Linked DNA regions of Homo sapiens: all the other regions are reported to be linked to region 3. The links are microRNA targets in miRTarBase. Many come from high-throughput screens and were not tested one by one. Region 3 holds a microRNA gene; each other region holds the end of a gene's coding sequence.

Region 1 (5,150 bases), not on the chromosome of region 3:
GTGGTTGGAATAAGGGGCATGGAGTACAGTTCTACAAAGGAAAGGCAGAGGGCTATACCCAGGGAAGTAGGGAAGGGGTAGCGTAGACAAAAAATGGCTGCGCTTGATGCTTGATAGGTGAGCGCCTGGCTATGGAAAGGGAGAGGCCTGGAGGCCAAGGGTCCGGAGTCCCCTCAGTGGGACTGGCTGCAAGTGTGTGGTGGGAAGGGGAGCGTTGAGACAGGGTCTCACTGTCGCCCATGCTGGAGTGTAGTACGATCACAGCTCACTGCAGCTTCAAACTCCTGGGCTCAAGCAGTCCTCCCACCTCTGCCTCCTGAGTAGCTGGGAACTCAGACATGCACCCCCACACCCAGCTACCTTTTTTTTTTTTTTTTTTCTGAGATGGGGTCTCCCTCTGTTGCCCAGATTGGTCTTGAGTTTCTGGCCTCAAGCAGTGCCCTGCCTTGGCCTCCCAAAGTGGTGAGATTATGGTCATGAGCCACTGTGCCTGGCCAAAGGACTGGCTGAGATTTTATCTGAGGGGAAGGTCCTAGGTCCCCCACCGCCTTCTACCCCTTGTCCCTAGGAGGCCCGGGCAGTCCTGACCTTTGCCCTGGACAGCGTGGAACGGAAGCTGCTGATGTCCAGCACCAAGGGGCTCTACTCAGACACTGAGGTACCAGCATGGGGATGAGGGGAAAAGCCAGAACCTTCCTTCCCACTGACATACGGTCTTGTCCCAACTCTGCCCTGGATTCTGAGAGGCTTCAGGAGAGCCTCTTAAATTTCTTCTTGTAAAAAGGGAGTTTTCAAACTTTGTGGACCCAGAAACCTTTGCGGAAATGTTTAAGGGAAGCCCAATTTATAACACAGGCAAAAAGAGGATGAGCTCAGTTTGAAGTCAGAAGAGGGCATGTGATGGTCCCCCAGCTCCCAGCTCAGAGTGGTGAGCCATGGGAATTCCAGGTCTCAGGCTAAGGGGCAGAGCCTGGAAACTCTTGGACATGACTGTCTGCAAAAGCATGTCCAACCTGGACCTCATGAATCTAGGAATACATGGCAGTGAAGACTGGGAGTCTCTTGATTCCATGGCTCTTAGATTATTTGGGCTGAAGGGGACTGTGGCTGTAAAATCCCAAGACCACTCCAATTCTGTGCACTCTCCAGTTCCATAGCTCTGCACAGCTGGGGCCTCCTCCAAGGTGTGAGGATGCCTGATAGGTCTGAGTCCTGTTGCTGTCAGAATCTGATCCTGAAGTCCTTCTCCCTCTTTTTATTTCTCCTGATCTCTAAGAAACAGTTCATGAAATGGGAAATAATCCCTTACCACTTGCCTCACTTGGGGGCAGGGGAGTGATGGGAGGTTAAGGGAGTCAGGTGGGGTCAGCAGAACCTCCTGGGTCAGCCAAGTCGTGTGTGCATGAAGGGCTCGGCCCCCAGCACCGACCAGTCTCTCCCCCGCAGCTCCAGCAGTGCCTGGCTGCGGCCCAGGCCGCTTCGCAACACGTCTTCCGTTTCTACCGGGAATCGCTGCAGAGGCGTTACTCCAAGAGCTGAGGCAAGCTGGGGCAAGGGGCCGCTCCCATTGCCTCCACCCACTCACCCCCTACAGCCTGAAGCAAACCAGCAGCCCAGCCTTGCCTCTCTGACCCATGGGCTCCTTGAGCCTGCAGCTCTGTAACCACAGGGCTCCTGTGGGGAGGCCTTGGCCTGTGACAGCCCCCAGGCCTGGGGGCACAGATCCCCCCAGCAAGGATAACATTCAAAGGAGCTCACATTTATGGAATGGATGAATCAATAAATTAATTCACTTTAACAAATGTCTGTTGAGCACCCATCGTGTGCAGGCCCTGCTAGTGAGATCCCAGAGGAGCAGGGAGGTAAACTGGAATTTGTCAGATGGTAGTAAATCTATGAAAAAGTAAAAAGCAGGGAACAGGAGTTTGGGAGAGTCCCTTTATGGAGGGCAAATTGAGTACATCAGGCATCAGTGCCTTCACAGAGCAGGGTACCTCAGAGGGGACCCTGAAAGAGGAAAGGGAGTGAGCTCTTGGATAATGTGGGGAAGGAGCCCCCAGGGGCTGGGGACCAGCTTGGTGAACAGGGTGGCCAAAGCCAGCGAGCTAGAGCAGGAGAGCAGATGGGGCTGGGGGAAACGGGCAAGCATGCAGGTGGGGCCTTGTAGGCCATGGGGAGGAAACTCTAAATACCCACCCACCAACCCTGTGAGATGGGGCTGTTGTTATAGTCCCTGTCTTGTTTTGTTTTGTTTTGTTTTGTTTTCTTTTGTTTTGAGACGGAATCTCGCTCTGTTGCCCAGGCTGGAGTGCAATGGGGTGATGCAACCTCCGCCTCCTGGGTTCCAATGATTCTCCTGCCTCAGCCTCCTGAGTAGCTGGGACTACAGGCACATGCCACCACACCCAGCTAATTTTTGTATTTTTAGTAGAGACGGGATTTCTCCATGTTGGTCAGGCTGGTCTCTTAACTCCTGACCTCAGGTGATCCGCCCACCTCTGCCTCCCAAAGTGCTGGGATTACAGGCGTGAGCCACCGCACCTGGCCTAATTGTTGTATTTTTAGTAGAGATGCGGTTTCACCATGTTGGCCAGGCTGGTCTGGAAATCCTGACCTCAGGTGATTCGCCTGCCTTGGCCACCCAAAGTGCTGGAATTACAGACTTGAGCCACTGTGCCCAGCCTAATTTTTGTATTTTTAGTAGAGATGGGGCAAAACCCTACCTGCAGTTGGAGGCAGTCCCATCCAAACCAAATGGCCTGCAATAGGGAAAGGGATGCATCCTTAAGGAAACATGGAGGTGTTGGCACCTGGACAGGGAAAACACATCTGTCACAAGCACTTAGCAGAGGCACATAGGAAGTGCTCACTAAGCACACTAAGAGGGGCTAGACATTATCAAGCAATAAAGACCAGGCTTGGTGGCTCACGCCTGTAATCCCAGCACTTTGGGAGGCTGAGGTGGGTGGATCACCTGACGTCAGGAGTTCGAGACCAACCTGACCAACATGGTGAAAACCTGTCTCTACTAAAAATACAAAAATCAGCCAGGCGCAGTGCTGCGCACCTGAAATCCCAGCTACTCAGGAGGCTGAGGCAGGAGAATCTCTTGAACCTGGAAGGCAGAGGCTGCAGTGAGTTGAGATTGCACCATTGCACTCCAGCCTGGCAACAGAGCGAGACTCCATCTCAAAAAAAAAAAAAAAAATACAAAAAATTAGCCAGGCATTGTGGCACACGCCTGTGGTCCCAGCTCCTTGGGAGGCTGAGGTGGGAGGATCACTTGAGCCTGGAAGGTCGAGGCTGCAGTGAACCAAGATCGGGCCACTGCACTCCAGTCTGGGTTGACAGAGGGAGATCCTATCTCAAAAAAAAGAAAAGAAAAGAAAAAAAAGCTCAGAGGGAGACAGCAACAGCAGACAGTCATTTCCACATATGATGCATTTAATCCTCACTACAGCCTGAGGTGTGCAGAAAGTCCCATTTTGCAGAGGAGAAAAAGTGAGAAGTCACTTGGGCCAAGCTTACACAGCTAACAGGTAGAGGAGTAAGGACTTGAAACTCAGCTCTCTCCAGTTCTCTGCTAACCACCCATATTGGGATGAGAACATCCTGCTGTTTAGAAACCACCAGGCATGGTCGCTCATGCCTGTAATCTCAGCTCTTTGGGAGACCGAGGCGGGAAGATCAGTTGAGCCCAGGAGTTTCAGACCAGCCTGGGCAATATAGTGATACCTTGTCTTTACAAAAAAATTTTTTTAATTAGCTGGGTGTGGTGGCAGGTGCCCGTAGTCCCGGCTACTTGGGAGGCTCCTGGGCTCAATCAGGATGATTGCTTGAGCCCAGGAGTTCAAGGCTGCAGTGAGCCATGATTGTGCCACAGCACTCCAGCATGGGCAACAGGGAGACCATCTCTCAAAAAACAAAAAAAACCCGAAAATCCTCTTCCCCCTTTTCCAGCTCAGGTCTCAGGGAGCAAGCACCCTGGGGATGCCCACCACAGCCCGTCACCCTGACCAGTCAGTCCCCTGTTGGTCTCAAGCACCCCCACCCCCTTCCATCCTCCCACACACGCGAACAGACTCTGGTTTGGCTGCAAGGGTGTCTGGTGTTTAATCTCAGGTTGCTGCCGCCCGAAGAGCGGTGGCCAGGAAGGGGAAGGGTTCCAGTCCAGCTCGCTCCCGTTTCTAGATGCTCCTGCCGCCGCCGCAGCCTCATCCACCAAGATTCTCCACTCTCTGCCCACAGATTTGCTGGGCTGCCGGCCTCAGGGTTCACAGTGAGGGCTGTAGGGGCAACTAGGGCGGGTCTCGGGAGGCAAGGTAGGCAGCCAGGGTCACCAGGGCAGCCGCATACGTGCACACGCCCAGCCCGACGGCGAGGACCCCCAGCAGGAAGGCACGGCGGGAGGCGGCCCCTGCCCCCTGGATGTCCCCCTTGGCCCAAGCCTTGTTGGTCTGTAGAGGCAGTGGGCAGCAGTGACCCAGGCATCCCCTCAGTCCCAGACCCTTCCCCTGGTCCCTCCCCCACCCAACATACCCATTCATTCATTCATGCATGTATTCCAAAAGCAGATACGTAGCACCTACTATAGGTCAGGCACTGGGGATGCTGAGTGGTTAATAAAAACATTAAAATGGTAAAAAATAATAATAATAATAAATTTTAAAAAATAAATAAAAACATTAAAATGGTATATGCCACTATTCTAACTCATTTGATTCTCACATTGACCCAGAGGTAGCAATTATTCCCACTTTACAGATGAGGAAAGTGAGGCACAGGGAAGTTAAGTGACTTGCCCAAAATCTTGCAGAGAGCTGGGCACCGTGGCTCACGCCTGTAATCCCAGCACTTTGGGAGGCCAAGATGGGAGGATCACTTGAGGTCAGGAGTTCGAGACCAGCGTGGCCAACGTGGTGAAACCCCGTCTTTATTAAAAATTCAAAAATTAGCCAGGCATGGTAGCGCGCGCCTCTAATCCCAGCTACTCAGGAGGCTGGGGCAGGAGAATCACTTGAACCCAAGAGGCAGAGATTGCAGTGAGCCGAGATTGTACCACTGCACTCCAGCCTGGGCGACAAAGTGAGACTCAAAAAAAATCTTGCAGAGAGTGGCAGACTCAGGATTTGAGTTCAGGTTCTCTGGGC
Region 2 (5,205 bases), not on the chromosome of region 3:
TAGCTCTGTTACCCAGGCTGGGGTGCAGTGGTACGATCTCAGCTCACTGCAACCTCCGCATCCCAGGTTCAAGCAATTCTCCTGCCTTAGCCTCCCGAATAGCTGGGATTACAGGCATCCGCCACCATGTCCAGCTAATTTTTGTATATTTAGTAGAGATGGGGTTTCACCATGCTGGTCAGGCTGGTCTCGAACTCAAGTGATCTGCCCACCTTGGCCTCTCAAAGTGCTGGGATTACAGGTGTGAGCCAAAGTGCCCAGCCTCCTTTTTAATTTCTTTTTTCTTTCTTTCAAGATGGGGGCTCGCTGTGTCGCACACGCTGGAGTGCAGTCGTGCAATCATGGCTTACTACAGCCTCAAACTCCTGGGCTCAAGCGACGCTCACACCTCAGCCTCCTAAGTAGCTGGGATTACAGGTGTGTGCCACCGTGCTGGGCTAAACTGAAACTTTAAATGAGTTGCCTGCCCGAGACTTCAGTAAAGACCTGCAGGAACTGGGGGAAGAGTGTGGTTTGGGTATCTGCAGGGGAACTGTGAGCACAAAGACCCTGGGGTGGGAGCTGTGCAGAGTGTGTAGCTGTGAGCTGAGGGTATGGGGGTAGGCCTGGGCAAGTAAGGTGAAGCGGGGAGCAGTGCCAGACATTGTGGGGACACCAGCATGGGAAGACCATGGATCTGTGGGGCAGGCACCCCCAGAGATGCCACCTTGTACTCATCCTATTCTGTCCTGGCCCATGGTTCTGCCTCTCCACCTGTCTCGGAACCGGGGGGCCGTTATGGTATCTCCCCAAGCCGCAGTTCCTTCATCTGTAAAGTGAAGATCACTACTGTGTTAGTCTGTTAGGGCCGCCTTAAAAAAGCACCACAGTCGGCCGGGAGCGGTGGCTCACGCCTGTAATCCCAGCACTTTGGGAGGCCGAGGCGGGCGGATCACAAGGTCAGGAGATCAAGACCATCCTGGCTAACACAGTGAAACCCCGTCTCTACTAAAAATACAAAAAATTAGCTGGACGTGGTGGCAGGTGCCTGTAGTCCCAGCTACTCAGGAGGCTGAGGCAGGAGAATTGCTTGAACCCGGGAGGTGGAGGTTGCAGTGAGCCAAGACTGTGCCACCATACTCCAGCCTGGGTGACAGAGTGAGACTCCGTCTCAAAAAAAAAAAAAAAAAAAAAAAGCACCACAGTCTGGGCTCAGTAGCTCACACCTGTAATCCCAGCACTATGGGAGGCCAAGGTGGGAGGATCATGTGAGCCCAGGAGTTTGGGACCAGTTCAGGCAACATGGTAAAACCCCGTCTCTACAAAAAATACAAAAAATTAGCTGGACGTGGTCGTATGCACCTGTAGTCCTATCTACTCAGGGGACTAGGTGGGAAGATTGCCTGACCTCAGGAGGTGGAGGCTGCAGTGAGCTGTGATCTTGCCACTGCACTCCAGTCTGGGCAATGGAGTGAGACCCTGTCTCCAAAAAAAAAAAAAAAAAAGCATCACAAATTGAACCACTTAAGATAACAGACATTTATTGTCACACAGCTCTGGATGCTGGAAGTCCATGATCAGAGTGACAGCAGGTCTGCTCCCTCTGAAGGCTCTAAGAGAGGCTCTGAAGCAGGCCCCTCTCCCAGCTTCTGGTGATGCCTTGGCTCGTGGAGCAGAATTCCAGTCTTTACACGGTGTTCTTCCTGTGCGCGTATCCGTCCGTGTCCAAATCTTTCTTTTTCCTTTTTTTTTTTTTTTAAGAGACAGGGTTTTTCTCCATCATCCAGGCTGAAGTGCAGTGGTGCAATCACGGCTCACTGCAGCCTCCACCTCCTGAGCTCAAGTGATCCTCCTACCTCAGCCTCCCAAGTAGCTGGGACTACAGGTGTGTACCACCATGCCCTGCTAATTTTTTAATTTTCATTTTTCTTTAGAGATGGGGTCTTGCTATGTTGCCCAGGCTAATCTGGGCTCAAGCAGTCCTCCAGCTTTGGCCTCCCAAAGGGCTGGGATTACAATGTGAGCCGCTGCGCCCAGCCCAAATCTTCCTTTTTTGTTTTTTTGAGACAGAGTCTCCCTCTGTTGCCCAGGCAGAGTGCAGTAGTGCAATCTTGGCTCACTGCAACCTCTGCCTCCTGGGTTCAAGCGATTCTCCCACCTCAGCCTCGCACTACAGGTGTGAGTCACAATGGCCAGCTAATTTTTGTATTTTTTTTTTTTTTTTTTGGTAGACACAGCGTTTCGACATGTTGCCCCAGGCTGGTCTTGAACTCCTGAGCTCAAGCAGTCCTCCTGCCTCAGCCTCCCAAGGTGCTGGGATTATAGGCATGAGCCACTGTATCCAGCCTAAATGTTCCTCTTTTTATAAGGATAGCCGTCATATTGGATTAGGGCCCACACTAACGACCTCATTCTACCTTGGTTACCCCTGGAAGAACCCTATCTCCAAATGCAGTCACATTCTGAGGTACTGTGGGTCAGGACACTGATATATCTCTTTGGGGACACAACTCATAACACCAATAGAATCACCATTGAGGGCTGTTCTTCCTTAGGGGCCTCAGGCTGCTGGGGAGCCCTGGGCAGGGTGGGGGCAGAGGGACCCACACAAGAGCAGAGACTGCTCTTCCTGGGCAGGCCGGGTCTCTGGGCAGAGGTGAACATCCGGGGGGCTCTTCATGAGGGCAGGGCACCATCCAGGTTGGGGACTGGCACTGGTCACCGGCACAGGACATGGTAGCCACTGGGGCAGGTGAATGTGTTGGCAGCAAGGGCAGTGCCCCCAGCCGGGAGCCTGTTGTCCTGACTCAGAGGACACGTATGGGATGTGGGGCCTCAGTTTCTCCTCAGGCCTGGGGGTGCAGCCTGGGTCGCAGCTGGGAAACTCTTCTGAGTTCAAAGTGAGCCATGGAAGGCTCTGAGCCCAGCAAAGTGGTCTGGGCAAGAAGGGGAAGAGACGGGGAGGCCCCTGCTCCTCCCTAGGTGGACTCACATCATGTCACAATCAGGCTGGGAAGCCCTGGCGCAGGTCCACACCCACCCTGCACTCTCATGGGTCTGAAAAGGCCAAGTTAGGGGTTGGGTGCAGAGGCTTAGAAAAGTCTAGGTCTCAGCATTGGATATCCGGGACCCCCTTATACTCGGCCAGGCTCAGGGATGAAGCTCCTTAGAGCTGGCCCCAAACCAGGAGCTCCTGGGGCTGAGACAGATGCAGACCTGCTCTCCTGCCCCTCCTACCATCCCCTGGCCCCCATCATCCAACAGAAGTCCAGGCCAGCCTGCCTCCCGCTCCAGTGGGGCCTCCATTGCGACCTGATAGACCTGTATGGGTGGCTGGCCCCATAATCAGCATCTACCACATCCCACGCGCATGGGGTCTCTCACAGCGGCCCCTGCCCATGGACAGATGGACTGACCCACAGGCATCCACATGTGGTGCTGAAGAAGCCGTGAGGAAAGGGGGAGGTGGGAAGGGCCTCGTCCAGGGTGTCTGGCTGCACAGGAGACATAGCAGCTCCCACTGGCACCCTGCATACAAGGGAAAGGCCTCGAAATGCGCTCACCAAAGCCTCAGAGTTTTATTATCAGGAGCTCACATTCAGGTACAGATTCCTATGAAGTTTGCCTCACCTGGAGGGAAGAGGGAGAGAGCAGGGCTGGCTGAGATGGGGCTGCCAGAGGCATGGTCTCCAGCTGGGTAAGCGGGATTCTGAGAGCCCCTGGTGCACACGGAGCCTCCTGGCACACACAGGATTGTCTCAAACACAGAGGACCTCTGGCACACTCAAGGGCACTGAATCTAGCAATGAGTCTGCACTTCTGTTATGAGAGTGGGTTTTTCGGCCAGGCGTGGTGGCTCACGCCTGTAATCCCAGCACTTTGGGAGGCCGAGGCAGGTGGATCACCACGTCAGGAGTTCAAGACCAGCCTGACCAACATGGTGAAACCCCGTCTCTACTAAAAACACAAAAATTAGCTGGGCATGGTGGCACACGCCTGTAATCCCAGCTAATCAGGAGGCTGGGGCAGGAGAATTGCTTGAACTTGGGAGGCGGAGGTTGCAGTGAGCCGAGATCGTGCCACTGCACTCCAGCCTGGGTGACAGAGCAAGACTCCGTCTCAAAAAAAAAAAAAAGAGAGAGTGGGTTTTTCTCAGGTCTTCTCGGTGCCCAATTCCAAATGTGGCTGTCTCCTCTGCAGGAGCAGGTCTGCTTGTCAAGAGTCCAAGCACGCCTGTGTTCTGTGGCCACAGGAGAGGAGGGGCCGCTTTTAAATACAAGCCTACTCCTGTCGTTGGACCAGAACAAAGACCTACTGGCCAGAAGCACATGAGAGGTGAGAGTCGCCCTTCTGCCTTGTTCGGCATCGTGTGTGTGCACCTGTGTGTGTGTGTCTGTGCAACTGTGCATGTGTGCACATGTGTAGCACACCTGTGCACGTACATGTGCCTGTGTCGGTGTCCATGTATATGGCTTGCATGTGTGTGCTTGTGCACACGCAGGAGTGTATGTGTGTGCCATGTGAGTGCCTGTGTACATGTGCAAGAGTGGGCTCAGGTGTATCCACATGTTCATGGTATACCTCGGCCGGTCCTAGACCTAGTATCAGACTCTGCTGCTCCTCACTGGCATAAAGGCAGACCCTGAACTGGGCATGGGGACACAGATGGGTAACACGCAAACCACAGGGCCCTGATCCGGGGGATGCTGGCCAAGCCACGGGCAGTGCAATGCAGTATGGCAAAGGAAGGTTTCCTGTCCACAGTGCCCCTCAAGGCAGGGCCCCCCAGGAGCCCACTGGCCAGGCCCAGAGGTGGGGTTAGCTCTGCAGTGTGAACTCATAGGTTCTGGTCTCCCAGTGGGAGAGGTCCTTGTCCATCATGCTACGCTCAGTGAAGGTCACGTGGCCGTCCGCATCTACCAGGATGATAGTGTTGGTTCTGAAAGAGAGCAGGGGCCCTCGTTCACCTGGTGTCCCTCAGCCCTGCCCTGCCTGTCACAGCCACAAATAGGGCAAGAATGCAGGCAGGTAGAGTTAGGAACCCCATGCCTGGAGGCTGTGCCAAGTCACAGAGAGCAGCAGCCTCAGTCTTGGGGATGATGAGGGGCCATCAGTGGCGTGTGAGCTCTTGGCTGGCTCCACAGGCCCACACTTGCTGAGTCCTGCCACCTTCACTGGGAACCACCCCACCCTGCCCTGCTCTCCCCGTGTAGCATGAGCCAAGGC
Region 3 (5,214 bases):
GAAAAGACAGGAAAAGACCACAGTGAGAAGACAGACTGAAGAACAGGGACAAGGAGGCAGCTGTCAGGGCCAGCATGTCCAACAGGAAAGGAACCCCAATGCTTTGGCTTCCTACCTTCTGGAGGAGACTCTGTGGCCTCTTCTTCATGCTTCCTGTACTGAGAACAATTAATAGAACCATGGACTGGGCAAGGTGGCTCACACCTAGAATTCCAGTGCTTTGGGAAGCCATGGTGGGAGGATCGCTTGAAGCCAGGATTTCAGGACCAGTGTGGGCAACAAAGTGAGACCCCATTTCTACAAAAAAAAAAAAAAAAAAAAAGCCACGTACCTGTAGTCCTAGTACTCAGGAGGCTGAGGTGGGAAGATGGCTTGAGCCCAGGAGTTCTATACTACATTGAGCTATGATGGCACCACTGCACTCCAGCCTGGCCAAGAGTATGAGACCCTCTCTCTTAAAAAAAAAAAAAAAAAACAAACAAAAACAGAACCATGAGCTGAAGTGCCCTTTGCTTTCATTTTGGAGCTCATACCTATTTCCCTGATCACAGGTTCTCAACGTAACCATCTATGGATTTGTATGCAAGAATGTTCTTGTCTGTATTTTCCTGAGAATAGTTACAGTTTTCAAAGATCCCCCACAAAGGGCCAATAGCCCCAACAAAGAAAAGGAAAAACTAAAAACCAGTGCTTTAAGAGAAAAAACACATCCTATTGAAATGGCTGAGGCTCCGGTATCTTTATACTGACAGAGGGAGCTAATATTTAGCCCACTGAAACCATTCCTGTCCTGTCCTGTCCTGCCTTACACTCAGTTACACAAGGCACAGCGTTGCCCTTCCTAAAAAGAAGAAGATACTGTTGGTCACAGTCAGCCCACTCTTCTACCCGTGGCTTGGTAGAAAGAGTAGTAGGTGACAGCTTCTGACCAGGGGCGGTATTACTGTGCTCAGTATTTCTCCTTTCCTGAGTCAGGATAAATAATTAGGAATGAACTTCAGAGCCAGTAACCCAATGTTCCAGTGGCACTCTGTCTCTCCCTGACTGATGAGAGGCTTGGTCAGCTGCCTGAGTTTCTCAGAACCCTCCCAAGGCCAGCACCCAGCTGGGCCACTTACCTGACCCCCTTGCTCGAGGAGTGACAGGCCCGTTGGATTTCTCTTCCAGGTCTTTCAGTTTGCAGTCAAAGAATCACTTATCCTGAAGCTGCCAACAGATGAGCTCATGAACCCCTCACAGAAGAAGAAAAGAAAGCACAGGCAAGAAGGGTTGGACAAAGTGTTTTGTTTTACAGCCAGGCTGTTCCCTGTGCTCTGACCTCCCCTTGGAGTTCCCATCTGCCTCCCTCTTTAGCAACCGCACAGGCTGTGTGAGCCCATCAGCTTGGCATCACATGACTGAGAGCCAGCCTCCTGAGTGCTCCCTGAGGGTCTGTGCCTTAGATCAGCCCTCTTCTTGTCCCCCAGTGCTGTGGACCATAACTGTCTGTTTTTCTATTTAAGCTTCTGGCCAATAGGACATGAGCTGGCCTCATGGCTCCACCCTGAAGCCATTTCTCCTTGTTGGTTTTGTTACCACCTTACCCATTTCTCAACTCTGATCAGAGTTTATTTATTTGTTTGGTTTGTGTTGTTTTTCTGAGTTACATGATAGCCTTTACTTAGGTTGGAAGTTTTTAAAAAAATTCTGCACCCTGGCCCTGTTCCCTAGTGACTATCACCTATCAGAGGAAGGAGCTGACACCACTTCTAGATACAGAAGGAAATCCCTGTGGCTCCTCCCTTTCAGTTCTTTCAGAGAAGATTCCTGAAAGGCCTTCCCACCTCCCCATCTTGAAACTCCCCCATATCTCCACCTCCACAAAGACAAAGGGAGAGATTTGGAGAGAAACAATAGCTTTATAATAGACCAATAGGCTTGGGCTTTCTTTTATTTCTGTGTTGTGTTCTTTTATGTTATTTGCTTGTTTGGGAGGGGTTGTGTTTAAGTTTAACTCTTGTAGCACAGGCCAGCTGGATTTAGGATGGACTCTAGCTTCTGTGTACCAAAGTCGTCCTGTTGAGGGGTTTGGGAAGATACTCCCCAGTCATCAAACACAGTCCCTCAGAGCAAGTCACGTTGTCATTTACCTGCATTTGCAGAGCTCCCTAGGGCCGTGACTGAGACCTGTCCTTCCTGTCTTTTTCAGATTGTGGGCTGCACACTGCAGGAAGATTCAGCTGAAGAAAGGTAAGTTCTACCAGGGCATTCTTCAGCAGTTCAGCTGGAGGCCTCACTCTGTGGTCATCACCCTACCCCACCTCCAGCTGCACTTGTTGACCCTGTGCCACTTCCGCAGATTGCAGAATTCTCTGCAGCAACTGAGAACAGCTGAGCCTCTCACTGCAACTGAGAAGACCTCTTAGGAGGTAACATTAAGGGCCTTGTGGTCTGTGATTTTTCTTTTTTTTGAGATGGAGCCTCGCTCTGTCACCCAGGCTGGAGTGCAGTGGCACAATCTTGGCTCACTGCAACCTCCGCCTCCCGGGTTCAAGCAATTCTCCTGCCTCAGCTTCCCAAGTAGCTGGGATTACAGGCATGTACCACCATGCCTGGCTAATTTTTGTATTTTTAGTAGAGACGGGGTTTCACCATGTTGGCCAGGCTGGTCTCGAACTCCTGACCTCAAATGATCCACCTGCCTCGGCCTCGCAAAGTGCTGGGATTACAGGCGTGAGCCACTGTGCCTGGCCAGTATGTGACTTTTCTAGTGTGCCATTTGCTAGGTTCCAGACCTCATTTAATGTTTAGAATAGCTTCCCTGTTGTCCCAGACCATCTCCACACCCTCCCCACAAAGCAGATCACCCCACTGCAGCTTATGAACAACGGTCATCCCTGTCTTCTCACTTCAGGTGCTAAATGTGTGTCCAAGGAGATTGTTAGGACCAGCCTCCTCTGAATCAGGGCAGCTGGACACTTGGGAGGGAAGACAGCTGGAGAGTATGGTCACAGCAGCATCCTCCTCTGTTTTCTTTCCTAGATAACTCTTCCACACAAGTGTACAACTACCAACCCTGCGACCACCCAGACCGCCCCTGTGACAGCACCTGCCCCTGCATCATGACTCAGAATTTCTGTGAGAAGTTCTGCCAGTGCAACCCAGACTGTAAGTGTGCTACGTTTTCTGTATAGTCTACCAAAACAGTTGGCTCCAGTGTGCCCTAGGCTTGCCCCATTCCTGTGCCCTTTACTGCTTATGGCCTTCTGATATCCCCTTTGCTGTGTTTTAGGGATTCTACAAATGAAATAAGTGCATGAGATCTGGGAGAGTCGTTTCTGGAAAACGTTTAGGTTCATGATTCTAAAAGCAGCAATTACACAGAAATCAGATACTTTCCCAACTTTGTCTTCTAGGGGAGAATTAAGAAATGTGGGGGGCAGCAGGCGCAGTCACTCACGCCTGTAATCCCAGCACTTTGGGTAGGCGGATCACTTGAGGTCAGGAGTTCAAGACCAGCGTGGCCAACTTGGCGAAACCTCATCTCTACTAAAAATAAAAAAATTAGGCCAGGTGTGGTGGCTCACGCCTATAATCCCAGCACTTGGAAGGCCAAGTCGGGCAGATCACTTAAGGTCAGGACTCAAGACCAGCCTGGCCAACATGGTGAACCCCGTCTCTACTAAGAATACAAAAATTAGCCAGACATGGTGGTACATGCTTGTAGTCCCAGCTACTTGGGAGGCTGAGGCACAAGAACTGCTTGAACCCAGAGGGCAGAGGCTGCCAGTGAGCCAAGATTGTGCCACTGCACTCCAGCCTGGGCAACAGAGCAAGACTCTGTCTCAAAAAGAAAAGAAATGTGGGACTCTTTTTTTTTTTTTTAAGTTACAGCCCCAGTTTCCCTTTTCTGAATACTGTTTTAAAAAATTTTTTATTCAGATATTTTTTGTTTGTGATTCTGTGTATGTCTATTTTCATTTCATAGCTGGAGTTTTAATATCAGGTAGAAGACAGGGGCCTGGATGTCAGCAGAGACATCCGGGTACTTATCTTTTACTTCTTATCCCACCATGCCCTTCCCAACTCAAAGCTGAGCAGTTTGATGGCAGTCCCCACAGCTTGCAGAACTTGGTGCCCAGGCGGTTTTGCTGGAGGAAATACCTCCTAACCCATAGCAGATAGTGATCTTAGCCGCAGCAGAGAAGTGGTTGCGCTGGGTTGGGCAGTGGGTGGAGAAGGATGGCATAGAACGGATGCATTCTGTTCTCAAAATGATACTTGTTTTGATGGTGACAATTTACCAGTGAAACACACTGATTTCATATTCTCTGGGGTACTCTCCACCTCAGTGGGAGGGAGAGGATTGTTGGGGAATCTCTAGGGGACACTTCTTATTAGTATACCTGCTTTTTTTTTCATTTTTTAAATTTTTTTGAGACAGGATCTCAGCTCTGTTGCTCAGGCTGGAGAGAAGTGGCACAATTATGGCTCACTGCAGCCTCAACCTCCCTGGCTCAAGCCATTCATCCCCCTACATCCATCAAGCCTGGGACTACAGGCAGGTGTCACCACACATGGCTATTTTTTTTTTTAATTTTTTTGTGGAGACAGGATCTCCCTATGTTGCCCAGCCTGGTTTTGAACTCCTGGGCTCAGGTGATTCTCCTGCCTTGGCCTCCCAAAGTGCTAGGATTACAGGCATGAGCCACCATGCTTGACCACACCTGCTTTTTTGACTCGAAGGCATGAATGTTGGGAAGCACTCAGTTTTCTATGGACAAAACTTGTGTATTTGATTATTGGGAAGGGAGCTTCCTCTTATTTTGCCAAACATCCTTGAACACAAAAAATTTACTTCTTTGCTGTCCCTTGAGTCAACCACAAGCCCCAGTATTAGCTTATTTCCCTTCTAAGACTTACCTGTCTTCCCTTCCCAGGTCAGAATCGTTTCCCTGGCTGTCGCTGTAAGACCCAGTGCAATACCAAGCAATGTCCTTGCTATCTGGCAGTGCGAGAATGTGACCCTGACCTGTGTCTCACCTGTGGGGCCTCAGAGCACTGGGACTGCAAGGTGGTTTCCTGTAAAAACTGCAGCATCCAGCGTGGACTTAAGAAGGTGAGGCCTTTCCTCAGGACCCCACACCACATAAAATGGAGGGGGAAGGAAGGAACGGTCCCAAGCATTCTCTTTCCACTGGTTCTTTTGAGGCTTTATATGTGAAAGTGCTTGAT

Evidence for each region. Region 3 holds the annotated microRNA hsa-miR-6780a-5p (UUGGGAGGGAAGACAGCUGGAGA, at 2,959-2,981, shown strand). A microRNA usually pairs through its seed, bases 2 to 8, with sites in the 3' UTR of a target mRNA and lowers its output. Matches are read on the target gene's strand: a 7mer-m8 pairs with bases 2 to 8, a 7mer-A1 pairs with bases 2 to 7 and ends in A, and an 8mer does both.
Region 1: the mRNA of TMEM91 is a reported target of hsa-miR-6780a-5p. The part of its 3' UTR that is shown has no 7-base or 8-base seed match.
Region 2: the mRNA of TANGO2 is a reported target of hsa-miR-6780a-5p. Seed matches in the 3' UTR shown: 8mer at 4,024-4,031 and 8mer at 3,859-3,866.

What each region holds. Positions count from the first base shown.
Region 1 is chr19:41,383,022-41,388,171 of GRCh38, reverse strand. TMEM91 (transmembrane protein 91) reads right to left here. Exons shown (of 4, transcript NM_001098821.2): 4 at 4,089-4,457. The coding sequence ends at 4,299. EXOSC5 (exosome component 5) reads left to right here. Exons shown (of 6, transcript NM_020158.4): 5 at 569-658; 6 at 1,447-1,798. The coding sequence ends at 1,539. Among named protein-coding and RNA genes, the nearest start is that of TMEM91, 9.1 kb to the right of the region's middle. RefSeq lists a silencer at 1,645-1,823 and an enhancer at 3,743-4,242.
Region 2 is chr22:20,064,255-20,069,459 of GRCh38, reverse strand. It overlaps TANGO2 (transport and golgi organization 2 homolog), which reads right to left. Exons shown (of 9, transcript NM_152906.7): 9 at 2,296-4,918. The coding sequence ends at 4,798. Among named protein-coding and RNA genes, the nearest start is that of DGCR8, 13 kb to the left of the region's middle. RefSeq lists an enhancer at 2,852-3,352.
Region 3 is chr17:42,705,891-42,711,104 of GRCh38, reverse strand. It overlaps MIR6780A (microRNA 6780a), which reads left to right and starts at 2,954; the gene lies at 2,954-3,021. EZH1 (enhancer of zeste 1 polycomb repressive complex 2 subunit) reads left to right here. Exons shown (of 21, transcript NM_001991.5): 13 at 1,168-1,259; 14 at 2,189-2,229; 15 at 3,022-3,147; 16 at 4,920-5,098.